2 separate regions of the Homo sapiens genome follow, and region 2 is linked to region 1. Evidence: fine-mapped expression QTL. A gene starts in region 1. The other region holds a variant in brackets. All regions are shown on one strand. Distances are from middle to middle.

What was found. PIP is the estimated chance that this variant, and not a neighbour inherited with it, causes the effect. A credible set is the group of variants that fine-mapping cannot tell apart.
Region 2: its variant is the best candidate, but not a certain one, in a credible set for the expression of RP2 in whole blood (TOPMed, PIP 0.88).

Annotation. Positions count from the first base shown.
Region 1 is chrX:46,832,997-46,842,979 of GRCh38, reverse strand. It overlaps RP2 (RP2 activator of ARL3 GTPase), which reads right to left and starts at 5,937. Exons shown (of 5, transcript NM_006915.3): 1 at 5,778-5,937. The coding sequence starts at 5,879. RefSeq lists an enhancer at 5,806-5,945 and a silencer at 6,256-6,335.
Region 2 is chrX:46,422,577-46,432,559 of GRCh38, reverse strand. No RefSeq gene overlaps it. Among named protein-coding and RNA genes, the nearest start is that of KRABD4, 20 kb to the left of the region's middle. The variant GA/A (reference allele first, on the strand shown) is at 5,175.

The DNA of each region.
Region 1 (9,983 bases):
CAGCAATTCCAAACCTAGATGTGTACACAACAGAAATGAAAACATGTCCAGACAAAAACTTGTATACAAATGTTCATAGCACCATTATCCATAATAGACAAAAAGTAGAAACAACCCAAATGTCCATCAGCTGATGAATAGATAAATAAAATGTGGTATATCCATACAATAGAATAAAGTCTTGATACATGTTACGATATGGACAAACTTCAAAAACATGCTAAGTGAAAGATGCCAGTCACAAAAGGCTAAATATTGTGGCTCCAATGAAGTGAAATGTCCAAAATAGGAACACTTATAGAGACAGAAAATAAGTTTGTGGTTTCCAGGGGCTCGGAGAGACGAGAATGGGGAATGACTACTAATGGGTACAGGGTTTCTTTTTCCAGGGATGAAAATGTTCTAAAATTAGACCATGGTGATAAGCCTGTGAACTTACTAAAAAATACTGAATTATATACTTTATTTTTAAACTAAATTTATTTTAAATTTTTATGGATATATAATAATAGTAGTATGCATTTATGGGGTACATGTGATATTTTCATACAAGCATACAACAATGTAATGATCAAATATGGGTAACTGGGATATCCATTACCTCAAACACTTATCATGTCTTTGTGTTGGGAACATTCCACATTTTCTCTTCTAGCTATTTTGAAATATACAATAAATTATTATCAACAATAGTTGGCTGTGGTGGGTAGTGGGGAGGAGAGGATGAAGAGTGGTTGGTTAATGAGTACAAAAACACAGTTAGACGGCTAGGCACTGTGGCTCATGCCTGTAATCCCAGCACTTTGAGAGGTCGAGGCAGGCAGATTGCCTGCGGCCAGGAGTTTCGAGACCAGCCTGGCCAACATGGTGAAACCTCATCTCTACTAAAAAATACAAAAACTAGCTGGGTGTGGTGGCACGCGCCTATAATCCCAGCTACTTGGGAGGCTGAGGTGAGAGAATCGCTTGAATCCAGGAGGCGGAGCAGTGAGCGGAGATCATACCACTGCATTCCAGCCTGGGCAACAGAGTGAGACTCCATCTCAAAAATATATATACAGTTAGATAGAATGAATTATATACTTTAAATGGGTGAATTGTATGGCATATGAATTATATCTCTAAAAAGCTATTTTTAAAATTAATAAACAAAGAACTAGTTATATCCTTTAAACAACTTTATATAGAGGATTTAAAACCTACTGGCAAATTCTTTGACACTCCTCCCATTGAGAGGTCACCTCCTCTTGGAACTGGGTGGGCATTTGTGACTGCCTCAGCATTACTCCTGCCACATCCAAATTAAGTCTAATTAAGTGACTTAAGAATTCACTTAATAAGCTAGTTAGAAAAAAACCATGCAGCTTCTGCCAGTCTCTCTTAGGATGCTTGCCCTTGGAACCCTGCCATCACACTGTAAGGAAGCCAGGAATACATGGAGAGGCCCCAGCTGAGCTCCCAGCCCAAAGCCAGCATCAACTTGCCAGCCAGCTATGTGGTCAAGCCATCTTGAAAGCTGTCACGGTTGATGCCACATTGAGCAGAGTCAACCCTGCTTAACCTTATGCAAATTAAAGAGTTATGAACAAAATATCTGCCATTATTTTAAACCATTAAGTTTTAGGGTGGTTTGGTACACAGCAATGGGTAACTAGAATACTTTTCATACTTAAAAGAAGGCTAAAAACAGTATCTAGCCTCCTCCTACTTAGTGCAGACACTTCTTTCTAGCAGATTACCACCCTAACTGTCTGACAATTTTGACTAACATGGAGATCAGGTCCTCAACGAAGCCACCCCTTCCACTGATGACCAATCCTGGGAATTATGATCTGCCTTATGTTAAAACCAGTTCTGTCATGCCCAACCTCTGGTTTAAGTTCTTTCCTCAGAGGTGACCATTACTGTCTAAACCTCTTCTTCAGGACAGGCCTTTACCTTACTAAACAGTAGAGAAATCTTTAGCATTGTCCTACTATATAGCTGAGGAACCTGAAGTGCACAAATTGGCTGCTTTACCCAAAGTTACACAATAGATACTCGAATTTCTGGTATAAGATTTTTGTTTAGTATTATTTCTATTGAATATGAGACAAATATAACAGACACATGTGTTGTCCTTACTCAAATCACAATTTTCACACTTAAGCCATAATTGTTTAGAGTTAATCCTCATTTCTATTATCTAGGAGGAAAAGTATGGGCATGAATACTGGAAGATGAAAACTACTTTTCCGTATCACTCTTCCTCACCTCATATGTACTTAAATGTTTCCTGTTTTAACTCCAGAAAGCCAGTAAACTCTTTTAGGGCAGGGATAAGTCTTATAATTTTGAGACTTACTTGGTGTTTGAGTACATACATACTGAATAATTTGCCTACCTATGGGTGGCAGCATACAGATAAGGATAAAAACATTTCTTTTGAAATAATTTAAACACAAGTCTTACAATCCAAAAATATTTCTCATCACATCAGTGTAAGAATTGTAATCTTTTTTCTTTTTCAAAGTCAGTAGCAATAGAAAATGAGCTTCTTACACTGTTGACTACAGTATGTCAGTTGCTATGACAATGCTTAGTCCCCAGACATTCCTTCTAAATGAGACAATTTCTCCCAGCTTCAGTCCCCTAAGACTGACCCAATTACACAACTCAAACCCCAAAACCCAAGGGGTGCCCTTCAATAAAGATACTCTGGGCTGGGAGCGGTGGCTCACGCCTGTAATCCCAGCACTTTGGGAGGCTGAGGCAGGTGGATCACCTGAGGTCAGGAGTTCAGGACTAGCCTGGCCAACAAGGTGAAACCCTGTCTCTACTAAAAATATACAAAAATTAGCCAGGCGTGGTGGTGCACGCCTGTAATTCCAGCTACTCAGGAGGCTGAGGCTGGAGAATCGCTTGAACCCAGGAGGCAGAGGTTGCAGTGAGCCGAGATCGCGCCACTGCATTCCAGCCTGGGCGATGACAGAGCCAGACTCCATCTCAAAAAGAAAACATCAAAAAAAGATACTCTGATTACACAACCTAAGGAAAAATGTAAACACCCTTTTCTAAGCTGCAAGGAAATTTTTCAGGCAACCCATTTTGTTTTTACATGTAAAAGTCTTACAAGTTGAATGGTAATTGTCTGATATAACTTTAAAACTGTATATGCTATAATCCATAACCACATTCCAGAAGCCTAAACTTTTAATATAAATCATTTCTATTAATATGCATGCATCATATCTCATTTATGTTCTCTGGGCTGTATTTGCAATCTGTTCCTTTTAAGGTACAACTGAAATCTTCTAGGAGCAAGCAAGGCCATGCTCAGTAAACGTATCATTGGACTAATACAGAACATTTGCACACTAGCCCAAATTAACCTCACGGGAGGCAAGGAACTAGGAAAAAATATTTTATTTATTTATTTTTTTTTTTTGGAAACAGGGTCTCACTCTGTTGCCCAAGCTGGAGGGCAGTGGCCCGATCATGACTCATTGCAGCCTCTAAGTCCCAGGCTCAGGTGATCCTCCCACCTCAGCCTACTGAGTAGCTGGGACTACAGGTGTGCACCACCATGCCCCACTAATTTTTGTATTTTTAGTAGGAATGAGGTTTCGCCATATTGCCCAGGCTGGTCTGGAACTCCTGGGCTCAAGAGAGCCACCAGCCTTGGCCTCCCAAAGTCCTGGGATTACAGGCATGAGTCACCATGCCTGGCCCTAGAAAAAAATATTTTAAATTGTATAAAATTTAACAAGCTATCAAAATGAGGCAACTTAGAAAGAATTCCTAGTAATTCCAAAAGAAAAAAAAACTAAAAAGAAAAAGCTATGTTGGGAAATGTGGTATCTGCATTGTCTCAAAATGTAAGCTGGTAATTCTCTTCAACAGTCCAAAATATTTTAAAACTGGGGTTTTTTTCAGAATGCTCATTTGGTTAGAAATTCTCATTTTGATTGGCTGAGTTGATCAAGATTTTAACTTTTATTATACACACACTCAGAAGCATGAGCTTATTTTATATATCCAATAACATCTCTTACAACTCTACAACTACAGAACTTAGTAGTGTTCTCAAAAAAAAAGGTTCTCTGTAAGCTCAAAACAGTTTCTACAATTGAAAGTTTATTACACACTCATTTGTGGGGAAAAAGCTTAGATGTTGGTGTCCAATGTTATATTTCTCAATGCATTTACTTAGCCAATGGGCAAAAGAAGAAAAAAAATCACAGGACACACACACTTATCTAAAAGAAGGATTAACATGAGAAGTCCTAACTAACCTGAATATTATGTTAATAAACATTAACTGTAAAACAATTTATTGTGAAACGATGAGTCATAGGCAGCCAAGACTACTATAAATAAAAAAGGCATTTTATTTAGTTTAGATTTAGCCTGAGTTCAAAAGAAAAAACTAAAATAAAAATGAAATATGCAACTTTCTCTAAGGCAGACAATTCAAGCTAAAAGAACATTGTTAGAAAGCCAAAGGCTGAGGAAAACAATATCTTTTAAAAACCGCCCATCAGATAACTTTAAATGGCAGGTGCAATCTTCTTGTGAAATAGAAAGCATAGTACTTTCTTCCCCTACATTATAAAATGCTACTATCGAGTATGACTAACAGAGAATAAAGGTACCATGTGACCCAAGAAGGGTGTGTATGAGAAGTAGGGGCAGAAAGACGGGGCTGAGAAAAGCTGCAAAAAGCTTTCAATTTCCTAACTCTGACTCTTAGAGACCAGAGCTTACCTGAATACATTCTGCTGGGGATTGGAAATCATGCAGAAAGGTCTGTGATTCCAAAACGTTAATACATTTATTATAAAGTAATCTTGGGTAAAGATATGTTGCCTTAAGCAAAGAGTTAACTGTTCATAATACCCATTTGAAAAATCTCTCATTTTGTTTGGGAGAAATAATTGATAAGTCCATCAAAGTAGTTTAGTAAGCACAAATGGAGAACTATGTAGAAAGAGGAACTATTATGAAATGTATGACCGAGTGTGTTTTGTGTAAGACTAATGGAGGTTTTCAAAGGTTTTTCGTTTCTGGCTATATACAAAAATAAAAATAAGGGCGTTTTCATTCATTTAAACCAGCAGTAAAATACTGCCTGGTTTATGCCGCTTATTTTCACCTTACAGTCTTAATACACATTCCAAGACTGATGCGATATTCATTATTTCTTTCGGATAACTGGAAGAGGAGGGGGAGTAAAGCTGTACATTAAACAGTCCACTTGGTAATTGAGAAAATTCAGCAGTGAAATATATCATGAGGCACCAAAGAGATTTGCCGGGGAGGGCAGACAAAAGAGAAAACAGCCACAGAACATTAAGCCCCGGAAGAGATGAGAATCGGTCCCATATACGTAACTCGACGACTGGACAAAACCCCGCTTGACGCTGCCGGTGGGTGAAACGAGGTGATTTGAGATTCAGGGCGTTCTCGGCTCTTTCCCTCTCTCGAATCGATCATCTCCAACAGGAAGTCAGAGCAAGGCAGGGTTCGGAGTCAGAGAAAGCTCCCGGGGGAGTCTGTCTACCACGACAACAAACTCCTAAGGCTCCTTCCGGAGCTCCACAGCCCTCTGGGCGGCCTCTCTAGCGCTGTACTTCACGTCCCCGCTCCCCAAAAAAGTCGTGCACCCCGACTTCAGCTATCCGCGTTCAAGAGAGTGCGGCAGCAGTTGGGTCGGCCCCCTCAGCGGTCCCGGGCCGTAAGGGACCTGGCGGAGCGGCTCAGGGAGGCTGAGACGGCGGCTACACGACTTTCATTACCTTCTCGCGCTGATCCCAGCTGTACTGCTTTGGCCGCTCCTCCTCGTTCTCGGGCCGCGACTCCTTGTCAGCCTTCCGTCTCTTGGAGAAGAAGCAGCCCATGGTCCCAGCCCGCGGAGCTCGTTGGCCAGCTCACTAGCTCAGGCACTTCCTAGAGTGTGGCGTGAACCCTGGGAACCCCGGCCTCGCAGCTCTCCGGACAACGCCCCGCGGAACCGCCCAACGGTCCGCAGCCTTAGTTTGCCCGCCAGGCCCAGCACCCCTTCCCCTTTTTCGTCGCCCTGACGACCCAGCGCAGCCAATGAACGCTCAGCGCCTGTTGAGCCAATCAAAGCCTCTCGAGCAATCCTGCGCGGCCTATGAAGAGAGGCCGACATACCCACATACCAATCCACGCCTGGCTCCTGCGACAGCCCCTGGCGGCGGGGCGGGCCGGCTCTGGCGCAAGCACGGACAACCCCGCCCACAGCTGTGGCACGGACCGCCCTCGGCCCCGCCCCTCCTGGAACTTGGTGGGTTCTCTAGCTGGTGGGAGGCCAGGCTCGGTATCCGGGTTTTTTTTGCCCCTGATTCATAAATTTGCAAGTTCAAGGCGCGGGAGAGATCTCTAGTTGAACATTAGATTTATCTTATGATGAAAGTTGTGAGGGACAGAAATTCCCGCTGACACAAGAAGACCCTGAAATTTGTATTTCTAAATCCTCTTCTCCCCTCATCACCCTTCCTACCGCCCTCTCATCGCCTGGCCAGGGTCACCCCCTCAAGAATTGTACCCCATAACCTCCCAATCCTCTTCTGTGCTCTTTCTTTCTTTCTTTCTTTCTTTCTTTCTTTCTTTCTTTCTTTCTTTCTTTCTTTCTTTCTTTTTCTTTCACAGGGTCTCGCTATGTCACTCAGGCTGCAGTGGCACAATCATAACTCACTGCAACCTTGCAACTTTGCAACCTTGACTTCCTGGGCTCAAGCGATCCTCCTGCCTCAGCCTCCTTCCTGAGTAGCTGGAACTACAAGCAAGCACCACCATGCCCACCTATTTTTTTTTTTTTTTACTTTTGTAGAAATGGGGTCTTGCTATGTCGCCCAGGCTGGTCTTGAACTCCTGGGCCCAAGCGATCATCCTGCCTCAGCCTCTCAAGGTGCTGGGATTACAGGCAGGACCCACCGCACCCCAGGCTGCTTCTGTGTTTTCTTAAGACTTTCACATATGGCTCTAAAATTGCACAAGTACTTAGTAAAATAGTTAATTGTGTATTGTTTCCCTATTTGAACTGTGACTTTCTTGAGATCAAAAAGGTATATCTTTTTTTTTTTTTTTTTTTTTTGATGGAGTTTTTGCTCTTGTCGCCCAGGCTGGAGTGCAGCAGTGCCATCTCGGCTCACTGCAACCTCCGCCTCCCGGGTTCAAGTGATTATCCTGCCTCAGCCTCCAGAGTAGCTGGGACTGCAGGCGCCTGCCACTACGCCCGGCTAATTTTTGTATTTTTAGTAGAGACGGGGTTTCACCATGTTGGGCAGGCTGGTCTCGATCTCCTGACCTCAGGTGATCTGCCCGCCTCGGCCTCCCAAAGTGCTGGGATGACAGGCATGAGCCACCGCGCCTGGCCTAAAAGGTATGTCATAAAGGGCATGCAGGGCCGGGCGCGGTGGCTCACGGCTGTCATCCCAGCACTTTGGGAGGCCGAGGCGGTAGGATCATGAGGTCAGGAGATCGAGACCATCCTGCTCAACACAGTGAAACCCCGTCTGGTGAAACCCCGTCTCTACTAAAAATACAAAAATTAGCCGGGCGTAGTGGCGTGTGCCTGTAGTCCCAGCTACTCGGGAGGCTGAGGCAGGAGAATTGCTTGAACCCAGGAGGTGGAGGTTGCAGTGAGCCAAGATGGCGCCGCTGCACTCCAGCCTGGGCGACAGAGGGAGACTCTGTCTAAAAAAAAAAAAAAAAAAAAAAACCAGAGCCGGGGGGGGCGGGCACGGTGGCTCACGCCTGTAATCCCAGCACTTTGGGAAGCCAAGGCGGGCGGATCACAAGGTCAGGAGTTCGAGACCAGCCTGGCCAATATGGTGAAACCTCATCTCTACTAAAAATACAAAAATTAACCGGGCATGGTGGCGGGCGCCTGTAGTCCCACCTACTCGGGAGGCTGAGGCAGGAGAATAGCTTGAACCCAGAAGGCGGAGGTTGCAGTGAGCCGAGATGGCGCCACTCCACTCCAGCCTGGGCGACAGAGCAAGACTCCGTCTCAAAAAAAAAAAAAAAAAAAGGCAGTGGGGAGGAAAGCTGAGGGGAGGGATGTACCTTTGAATCTCCTACACCTGGCCCAAGTCCATACTAGGTGCTCAATACAACGTTTGTCAAATGAATGAATGCATGCATGGGTGCTAGTGAAGGAAGCATTTATAAACTTCCCCCATCCCTTCCCAAAGAAAGTGACCAAACTGTGGGGGTGGGAGGCATGTGGATTTATGGTAAAGGGGTTCTCCTCATGGAGTTTATAGCCTCGTTGAGGACATAAGCATTGCATATGAACGATCAGATCTGTTCTAAGCAAATGGCATAGGGTTCGTCAGAATATATTTAAAGATATATACACTAAATATAAACATTTGTTATACTTGGGTCGAATTTTACTGCAATACACATGCATTGCCTATGTAATAGAAAAGAAAGGTAAGTCAGTTTCTCTGAGAAACAGTATTTTGACATCTCAGTAGGATATCAAATGCTGATCACTTCAGGTTCAAATTTGGTTATCTTTTAAATTTCCCATACTTATTCACATCTAGTTTGTATCCTAAATGAGCCTCTGACTTTTTTTTTTTTTTTTTTTTTTGAGACAGAGTCTCGCTTTATCACCCAGGCTGGAGTGCAATGACATGATCTCAGCTCACTGCAACCTCCACCTCCCAGGTTCAAGCAATTCTCCTGCCTCAGCCTCCCGAGTAGCTGGGGCTACAGGCGCACAAAACCACACCTGGCTAATTTTTGTATTTTTAGTAGAGACGGGGTTTCACCATGTTGGCCAGGCTGGTCTCGATCTCCTGACCTCAGGTGATCCACCCACCTCGGCCTCCCAAAATGTTGGGATTACAGGCGTGAGCTACAGTGCCCGGCCGACTTAATTTGAACATAAAGAATGTTCCCCTTTTTACTTCCCGTCCTTTATTGCACAATCGGGAAGAAAAGTACATGTGCTTAAGTATTAGAAATTACTGCAAATTTAAGTTCCAGATCTTAGGCAATAGAGTCTTTACCCAGTGCACACTTTTTCTCCTTCAGAGTGAGATGAAAGTTTTATGTGAAGATGTTTTTGGATAAGACCCTCATTCGATATTTTATAATCTATTATTATATTTATAATCTATGGTCTATGATTATAAAACATCTGTGACCAGATATAAATATATAACTATGACCACTACTTAGTGTAGCAGAGGAGGCAGAGATCCAGAGAGGTGAAGGGATGAATCTGTGGTCACGATGAGAGTGGCTGAGCAGGGACTGGAAAAATCCACATCCTGTGTTTCCCAGTGCCTCCTCCTGCCTTAAGTTTGTTCCTCTCTAATTCATCTGAAATAAGTATCTGCCTCGGCCTTCTGATGCCTATGGGAGCTCTGTCCCACAGTGATGCTATTCCTCTTAATGAACAAACAATATAACAAAACTAATTCTAGAGAAACAACCTCTGAAACTCTCACTGTTTTGAAGTATTCATTAATGAGAAAAGCTCAAATCTACAATAAAACCTATATCCAAGAGTGATCTTTTCAGGGACCCTTAAAAGTGAAGATAAAGTCCCTTTTCTGTTCATTCCCATCCTACCATCACTCTTGACCAAAAACAAAATTACAAAAAGAAAATTAAATCAAATGTTAAGAACTGGGGACTAGAAAGCTAATGAACAGAGCTAATACTAGTGCTGTCTCATCCTTTTTCTTTCTCTCTTATTCTTTCTTTCTTTTCTGCCCCATCTCTTTTTCACCTGTCCCCATGAATTCTCATCACTACTTATTTTTGCAAACCAGCTCTCTACTTACTCATCAGCATTTACATGGTTGACAACAGCTATCCCACCCTGATTCCTCATGGCCTTTCTGTCCAAGGGCATGCTACAGTCTCAGACTCTCAAGGGAGATAATCATATACATTGCTGGCCAGTCAATAACAGATTGGCTCTAGGTTGGTATGCACCCCTGGTCCCATTGCTG
Region 2 (9,983 bases), 410 kb after region 1:
TGAGGCCCACCCAGATTACTGAGAATCATCTTCTTTACCTAAAGTCAACTGATTATAGATGTTAATCACATCTCCAAAATATCTTTGTAACAACACCTAGATTAGTATTTGATTGAATAACTGGACACTATAGCCTAGCTAAGTTAACACACAAAACTAATCATCACCGTCTACCCCTTGTAATCTTGGTACCATACACATCTCCTTAAACTATGCTTAATCTTCAAATAAAGATAATAACAAAGTCATATTTCCACCTAACATGATACAATTATCCAGCATACAACCAAAACTGCACCAACTCTTTCCCTAGAAGAGGATGCAAATACCTTTGAATAATGTTCACTCTTCTCCTTGACATCCTGTAACTGAAATAAATACTGTGACGTGAAGTTAACTATTATTAATACATCTTATGTTAGATTATAAAGGGATAAGAGAGGGAAGAAAACAAAAATACTACATATGCACACACACATAAATATCACATATTCATACAAAAACAAAGAAGAAATAACAATTATAGTCCTCATTTCTGCAACCAGTCATGTGCTCATAGCTAGGTACTTATAACTGCCATCTTTCATTACTATTTCATATTCCCTTTGCCCTCAGCAAACACCTCAGCTGGTTGTGGTATTTTGCCTGGTGGGGTTACACAACCTTCATTTCTGAGGGGTGTGGACAATTATGAGTCCTGCCTGGATTGAGTTGTAGTTCTTCATTGACTTTAATCACAGCACATGGTGGTACCAAGGGATGCCCTAAGGAAACTCCAGTACTCTAGATAAAATCCTTCTTACCTTCAATTGTATTAGCAGCCCAGTTTCTCCTTGCTCATCAGGCCCAATCACCCCAGCTAGTACAGTAACTTCCTTCTTTGCCTGTTGATTTAGAGGCAAGAGGAACCCAAAGCAGCTGGATGGCAGTCTTAACTTCCAGTTCAATGGAATCATTGTTGTGTCTCCTAGTGGAAAGCATTCCTTCCTTTGAAACTAAGATCTCTAGACCAGTAAAACATAAGGTCGCAGAGATTGGAAGCAAAAATTTTGCTAGTGGATCTCTAGGGGTGGGTAGTGCCATTCTCATTTCCATCCCTTGATTCTTGGCCTCTGCTGAGATGGTTGATTGGGTCCATGAGTAACACACCTAATCTCTTCAGCAAAAAGTTATTTAGCAAAACCCTTAACCCTCTCCCTGGAACATTTATTCCCAACAGTGAATTTTCTTTTTTTTTTCCCGACAGTAAATTTTCTTTTTTTTTTCTCAACAGTGAATTTTCTAATTTTAGCATCTTTTGCAAACTTGGTAGGCCAAGAACCTCCCAAATCATCAAATGCTCATTCCATTTTGTTTAACAATTTCTTTCTCAATTTATCTCTTTCCTCCTGCATTTTACTTTAAGCAGCGAGAAGAAACTAGGCCACACTTTTAGCACTGCTTGGAAATCTCTTCAGCTACATCCCTAAATTCATCACTTACAAGTTCTGCTTTCTACACAACTGTGGAATACAACTCAGCCAAGTTTTCTGCCACTATATAACAAGGATCACCTTTTCTCCATTCCCAATGCACGTCCCTCATTTCCTTCTGCATTCTTACTATACATGCCTTTATTGTTCATATTTTTATCAACATTCTGCATAACAATATATGTATTCTCTAAGGTTATAGAAGCCTTCTCTACCATACTCCTCATTTCCTCCTGAGCCGTGACGTGAATTGCCTTGATGTTCATATTTCTACTAACAATCATTTCAAGGCAATCTGGAATTTTTCCATCATGCTTCTTAAACTTTTTCTAGCCTCTGTCCGGTATTCAATTCCACAGCCATTTCCATATTTTTAGCTATTTGTTACTCCAGCACCCTGCTTCCTAGTACCAAAATCTTTATTAGTTTCCTAGGGCTTCTATAACAAATTACCACAAATTTAGTGGCTTAAAAACTGAAATTTACTTTCACACAGTTCTGGAGGGCAGAAGTCTAAAATCAAGGTTTGACAGGAATGCAATTCTTCCAAAGGTGCTGGGGAAGGATGCTTCCTATTCTTCCACCTTCTGGTGGCTCTGAGGAGTCCTTGGCTCATGGCTACATAACTCCAGTCTCTGCTTGTCTTTACTGGTATTCTCCTCTTCTCTCTCTTCTCCTCTTAAGTCTCTAATAAGGACATTTGTCGTTGGATTTAGAGCCCATCTGGATAATCCTGAATAATTTCACCTCAAGATCCTTAATTTAATTACTTTTGCAAAGATCCCTTTTCCAAATAAGGCTACATTCACAGGTTCTGGGGGTTAGGACATATCTTTTTGGGGACTACCATTCAACCCACAATATTAACATAGCTACACCAACCATCTTTTGATTAGTATTTGCATTGTATATTATATTACATCATTTTGCTTTTCATCTCTGTTTTCATATTAATGATATATTTCCTGTAAACCACATATAGTTACCCTTCTTTTTAAAATCCATTCTGACAATTTGAGCTTCATCATAATTACTGATATATGTATGTTTCAGTATACTATGTTACTACTTCTCACCTGTTTTGTCTCCTATTATTTGTTCCTTTTTTTTCTCCTTTCCTGACTTTTGGATTAATCAATTAACTTTTATTATTCTATTTCCCTTCCTTCACCTTCTTAGTTTTGCATTCTTTAATCATTATTTTAATGGTTCTAAGGATTATGATGTACACCCTTGATTTATTAGTCCACTACAGATTAGTATATTTACTACTTCCTCAACAATGCAATGATGTAAAATATTTCAACTCAATTAATTCCCTTTTATATTTTGTACTATTGTTGCTGTGAATGTCAGTTCTATGTATATTTTAAGCCTTTCAATACATTATGATAATTGTTTAATACAATCAGTATTCATATAGGTTGACCTACATATTTATCCTTTCCTGTACTCTTTATTCCTTTTTGCATTTTCATATTTTGGGGCTCATTATTTTCTAACCTGAATAAATACTCTGGTGACAATTAATTGTATCAGTTTTGGTTTTTCTGAGACTAGTTTTACTTTATGTTCATTTTAAAGGATATTTTCACTGGGAATATAATTCTGGGCTAGCAGCTAAAAATAAAACTCAATTTTCTAAACTACTTTATTATACATCAAGAGTTGGACTTGTGACAGTTCTGTCTAATAATGAGCAAGTGGAATTATCTGGAGAGGGTATTTGTTTTTTGAGACAGGGTCTCACTCTGTCACCCAGGCTGGAGTGCAGTGGCATGATCACAGCTCACTGCAGCCACCAACTTCTGGGTTTAATCAATCCTTCCAACTCAGCCTCCCGAGTAGCTGGAACTACGGGCCAACACACTGGGCTAATTTTTGTATTTTTTGTAGAGCTGGGGTCTTGCCATGTTGCCCAGGCTGGTCTGAAACTCCTCGGCTCAAGCAACCTTCTGCCTCATCCTCCCAGAGTGCTGGGATTACAGGCGTGAGCCAACACACCCGGCCAGAGAGGGCATCTTTCCCCAATAAAAAAGCAAAACCTGGAAAGGAGAATATATTTTTGTCATTAACTTCTTTATCCTTCCTTACACTTGCCTGGAATGTAGACAATACCTGGTGTAGGCCAGTCATCTTGTAGCAATGAGGCAAAAAACAAGAGGACAAACTAAGAGCTAAATAGTAACAGTATGGGTCCCCCCTGACAGAATCATTGAGCCATTGCATTAGTCCCAGACTGATTGTAACCAGACTCCTTATCAGGTGAGCTAACTAAACATCTTGTTTTTGTAGGCCATTGTGAGTGAGCTTCCTGTTACTTGCAGCTGAAAATATTTCTAATATACATTGAGATTTAGGAGAACTTAATTTTAATTCTAATGCAACCCCAGTGAATGTCTGTGCAGAAATACATTGCATTTCTGTATATCAACAAAAAGACGTTTAGATAATGAAATTAAACAAAATAGTTTACCCCTAGTGCCCATTATCTTGATCTCTAACCACCATTCTCACTAAAAGGGCACCAGAGATTTTTTGGGTAATGTCTAATTCCAGGTCTGGGGGTAGAAAAATACATGTTGCTCATGGGCTATCTTATTGTGCTAAAAAGCAAGGAAATGCTTAAAGACTCATGGGGCCCCATGACATAGGCAGCATCATGAAGGGCCTTCACTGGCCACATTTGAGATCATTTCAACATCAAAAAGAATAACGGCCGTAATTTATTCTAACACATTCGATAAATTAAATTCCCTAAATTCATAATGATACTTCAAAAACATTATAAGGAAAGGTTAAAAGGAAAAAAGGTGAAAGCTGTTTGTTTTGTCTTATAATGGATTTCAGGTTAACAGACTCTCAGATGGAAAGCTGGATACAGAAAGTTTATTGGGAAGAGATCTGTGGAGAAACATCTGTAAGAGGGTGAGGAAGACAAGACTGGACCGAGAGAGAAGTTGACCTACAATGCAGTTACAACTGAGGCCTGAGACAATTCTACAGAGAGCTCTGGAGCTGGGATGGCCCTTCAGAGTTGTCTCAAATTAAGGAGAGTGGGCTGAACCTTTGTAGAGTCATGCACTGCCTAAGAATGTTTTAGTCAATGTCAGACCGCATATACAACTGTGATCCCACAAGATTATAATGAAGCTGAAAAATTCCTATCATCTAGTGATATTGTAGCTGTCATAACATCTTAGCATGATGCACTACCTTCTCTACATTTAGATATGTTTATGTACACAAATACTTACCATTGTGTGACAATTGCCTATAGTATCCAGTACAGTCATACACTGTACTGGTTTGTAGCCTAGAAACAATAGGCTATGCCATGTAGCCTAGGTGTGCAGTAGATGATACCATCTAGGTTTGTGTAAATACACTCATGATGTTCGCACATGGATGAAATTGTCTAAAGGAGCGAGCATTTCTCAGAATGTATCCCCATCAGTAAGCCATGCATGACTTGTATTTCTACATCAGATACTCATTGACTACTGCCTGTTCCTTGAGGGGTGAAAGGGGTGGGTAGCCTTGAGTAAAGCAGTTCTCTGTAGCCAAGGTCAGTTTGAAATGAGGGACATAGCTGTGAAGTCAGTAGCTGATTTTCCCAGAAGTAGGAGGATAGTGTGTTGGCCCTGAAGAGGAGATCTGAGCAGAGCAACACATTATTTACTACAGCCATTATTTATAAAA[GA/A]ATGCCACCTAATAAATATACAAATAATTGTGTAATTAGTAAATCACTATTTTGCAAGCCTCAGTGTAATAATTGATTCAGGCAAAGATCCTTGAGGGATGTTAAAAACATTCAATAAAAGTTGTTTTTGAACACGATGCTAACATCCCGCTCTCTAAAATGTCAGTCCACAGATTACTTGCTAGTTAGAAAACTTAGCATCATTAAAGTGGTTGCACAATATTACCCATGAAGTGTTCTTGGTCATTATTAAGTATTCTGGTTAAAAATGCTTAACCTGAAACTGATCAAACCTCTAGACCTAACTTCAAGTCTACAGAAAATACAGGAGATAAAGGAAGAGTTAGACGACATCATGAGGAAACAATCAGATGATATAGAATGTGGGACAGTCTACAAGTTAACTGGCCTGGTTTCTTTAACAAGTCAGTACTGGACTAACAGGCCAATGCAAGGTAATAATGGTAGTGCAGTTTTTGGGTTTTTGGTTTTTTTGAGACAAGGGCTTGCTCTGTCACCCAGACTGGAGTGCAGTGGCACAATCATGGCTTATTGCAGCCTGGACCTCCCTGGCTCAAGCTATCCTCCCACCTCAGCCTCCCGAGTAGCTGGGACTACAGGCATGCACCACCACATTCAGCTAATTTAAATTTTTTTTTTTTTTTTTAGAGACGGGGTCTCCCTGTGTTGCCCAGGCTGGTCTCAAACTCCTGGTCTCAAGCAATCATTCTGCCTTGGCCTCCTGAAGTGCTGGACTTATAGGCATGAGCCATAGGGCCTTGCTTATAGTGTAGTTTTTGATCTCCCTAAATGCTATCTTAAAACCATTATGATAGCAAAGAACCATTATGATGGCAAAAGAAAAAATTTCCCAGATTACATTATGAACAAAACGAGGTGACGAGCATCCCCAGGAACACCAGAATGCAAATGGTTGCAACCAAACCATTGACAACGGCAAGACCTTTGTAGGTCCTGTACAGGTTTAGCAGCAATACAGAGAAGTAGTGGAGAGAATATAAGGATGTTCTGGCGCGGGGTGTAATCCCAGCACTTTGGGAGGCTGAGGCAGGTGGATCATGAGGTCAGGAGTTCAAGACCAGCCTAGCCAACACGGTGAAACCCCATCTCTGCTAAAAATACAAAAATTAGCCGAGTGTGGTGGTGCATGTCCGCAGTCCCAGTTACTTCGGAGGCCGAAGCAGAATTGCTTGAACCTGGGAGGTGGAGCTTGAAGTAAGCCGAGATGGCCCCATTGTACTCCAGTCTGGGCAACAAGAGTGAAACTCTGCCTCAAAAAAAAAAAAAAAAAAAAAAAGAATATATAGGGATGTTCTGATGGCCCCCAAAAGCCCAAAAAGACCGAATTTGCAAATACTCCTGAACTCAATTACTTACTGTCTCAGTTTCTACCACAGGAGTTACTCCTACCACCAGTTTCCTCACCTGACAACCTGTCCACTTGGGTCACCACCCTTCAAGATTCTTCCAACTGGCTGCCTTCTTGGCCCCTGGGAAAAACCCACACATCTTCACCCCACCAAACTCTGGACATACACGCTGTCTAGACTCGCTTTCCTTACCCTGCCATGTCAGGCTGCTACACGAGCCTCCTCTCTACAGGTTTATCCAGGTAGAAGCAGTCATCAGTCTCTGTCCTTATCTACATTCTAAAACTCTGAGGACATGTCAAGCTTTACCAAAAACTCCCTCAAGCTGTATCCCAGAGACAGAATTGGGTAGGTCTATACGTTTCTACAGCTCAGCACCTGGGGCAGAAGCAGATGTCAGTCTCTCCATATGGAAGGCAACCTCTGTTATTCTGAGTTATCTCGTGGACCCTCTCTTAGCTTGAGGTGGTAGTGGTGATGTCCATATCAAAGTGACGAAGTGCTCTCTACTGCAAGATTTTCCTATTAACGTTTTTTTTCAAAGAAGGAATCTGCAACCTACTCTCACATAGGTTGGAGGGGGATAATCCAAAGATTTGTTGGCCACCTCATGGTTGCATTTTCCAAAATATGTAGAAACACCATGTCAAAATATGAATGTACCAGGAATTAATGGGATACAAATAGAATATTTGTATCCTTTCCATTTTAGCCTTGTATCTGCCTCTGGGTTAGTTATCCAGTATTTTGTAAACCCAAAGTAACCTTATTTCTCATAGACATAGGTGTTTTTCTAGAAAAAATAAAATCCTTCACACTGACAGGAAATGACACTAGATGGTAGCTCTGATTCACTCAGAGAAATACAAAGCTCCAGAAAAGGTAAATCTGTAGGTAAATATACAATATTATATAAATATATATTTTTTTCCTAATGTATCTAAATGACATAAGATTGCATGAAACAACTCATTTTTTTTTTTTTTTGAGACAGAGTCTTGCTTTGTCGCCAGGCTGGAGTTCTGTGGTGCAATATCGGTTCACTGCAATCTCTGCCTCCCGGGTTCAAGCGATTCTCCTGCCTCAGCCTCCTGAGTAGCAGGGATTACAGGTGTGCACCACCACGCTCAGCCAATTTGTGTATTTTTAGTAGAGATGGGGTTTCACCATGTTGGCCAGACTGGTCTCAGACTCCTGACCTCAAGTGATCCACCTGCCTCAGCCTCCCAAGGTGCTGGGATTATAGGCGTGAGCCACCGCACCCAGCCTTACATAAAACAATTCTTATAAAATGATTTTTATGCTTATAACATATAAAAATATAATGCATATATGAAAATAATAGCAGAGTGTGTGTAGGGGGGAGAAGTGGACATATATGATATTAGTACAAATTTTTTATATTTTGCCAAAGGTAATTAGTAATGACTATGAAATAGAGAGTGACAGGTTAAGATTCATATTGTAATCCCTAGAGCAACAACTAAGAAAATAACTTTTAAATATGTAGCAAAACAATTCAACAAAGGAATTTAAAGACAATGTAGGTGAAGTGGACAAATTGCTAGAAATAAACAAATTACCAAAAATGATTCAAGTAGAGACAGAGAATCAAAATAGAACTACACATAAGTGGGCCAAGCGAGGTGGCTCATGCCTGTAATCCCAGTACTTTGGGAGGCCGAGGGGGGCAGATCACCTGAGGTCAGGAGTTTGAGACCAGCCTGGCCAACATGGTGAAACCCTGTCTCTACTAAAAATACAAAAATTAGCCGAGGGTGGTGGTGGGCGCCTGTAATCCCAGCTACTCAGGAGGCTGAGGCATGAGAATTGTTTGAGCCAGGGAGACGGAGGTTGCAGTGAGCCGAGATCACACCACTGCACTCCAGCCTGGGCGACAGAGTGAGACTCTGTCTCAAAAAAAAATAATAATGATAAATAAATAGAACTATACATAAGTAAAGACATCTGAATTATTTCAGAAATTTATAAGCTGATCTTAATAGGACTCAGAATAACAAAGAGATTTTTGAAAAAAAACAGAAGTTGAAATACTTTCACTTTCTGATTTCAGAAATTACTATAAAGCCGCAGTAATCAAGACAGCGTTGGTCAAAGGATACAAAATTTTACAGCCAGGAGGAATAAGTGTAAGAGATCTATTGTACAATACAGTGACTACAGCTAATAACAATGTATTGTATACTTGAAAATTGCTAAGACAGTAGATTTCAAATATTATCATCACAAATAAATGATAAGTATGTGTGGTAATGTACATGTTAATGAGCTTGATTTAGCCATCCCACAGTGTATACATATTTCAAAATATCATGTTGTACAACATAAATACACACAATTTTTATTTGTCAATTTAAAAATTTTTAAAAACTATTCTAAAAATAAGTTTAAAAAGACAGTGTGATATTGTCATGAAGACAGATGATGGTACAGAATCGAGTCCAGAAATAAACCCTTCCATTTATGGTGAATGGATTTTTGACAAAGGTGCCAGGACAATTCAATGGAGAAAGGATAGTGTTTTCAATGATAGTTGCTGGGACAATTGGATGTCCACATGCAAAAGGATGAATTTGCACTCTTACCTCACACTATACACAAAAATTCACTTGAAATGGGTCAAAGACCTAAATTTTAGTGCTAAAACTTTTAGAGAAAAACATAAGAGAAAACTTTGGTGTGATGGTTAATTTTAGGTGTCAACTTGACTAGATGAAGGGATACCTGGAAAACTGGTAAAACATTATTTCTGAGTGTATCCGTGAGGGTGTTTCCAGAAGAGATTGGTGTGTAGTCAGTGGACTGAGTGGGGAAGATCACCCTCAATGTGGATGGGCACCATCCAGTTGGCTGGGGGCCCAGATAGAAGAAAAAGGCAGAGGAAAGGTGAATTCGTGTTCTCTCTCTTTCTCTCTCTCTCTCTCTCTCTCTCTGTCCTGGAGCTGGGACACCCTTCTTCTTCTGCCCTTGGACATCAGAACTTCAAGTTCTCCAGCCTTTGGATTTTGGGACTTGCACCAGCAACCTCCTAGGTTCTCAGGACTTTGACATTGGACCGAGAGTTACACCATTCGATTCTCTGGTTCTGTGGCCTTCAGACTTGGACTGAGCCATGTTACCAGCCTCTCTGGTTCTTTAGCTTGCAGATAGCCTATCATGGGATTTCTAAGCCTCTATAAGCACATGAGCAAATTCTCCTAATAAATCCCCTCTTATCTATCTATCTATTTATCTATCACTTATCTACCTATCATGTATCTATCCTATTGGCTCTGTCTCTCTCTGGAGAACCCCAACGAATACAGATTTTGGTACTCAGAAATAGGGCTGTTGCTATAACATATACCTGAAAATCTGGAAGCTACTTTGAAACTGGGTGGTGGTTATAGGCTGGAA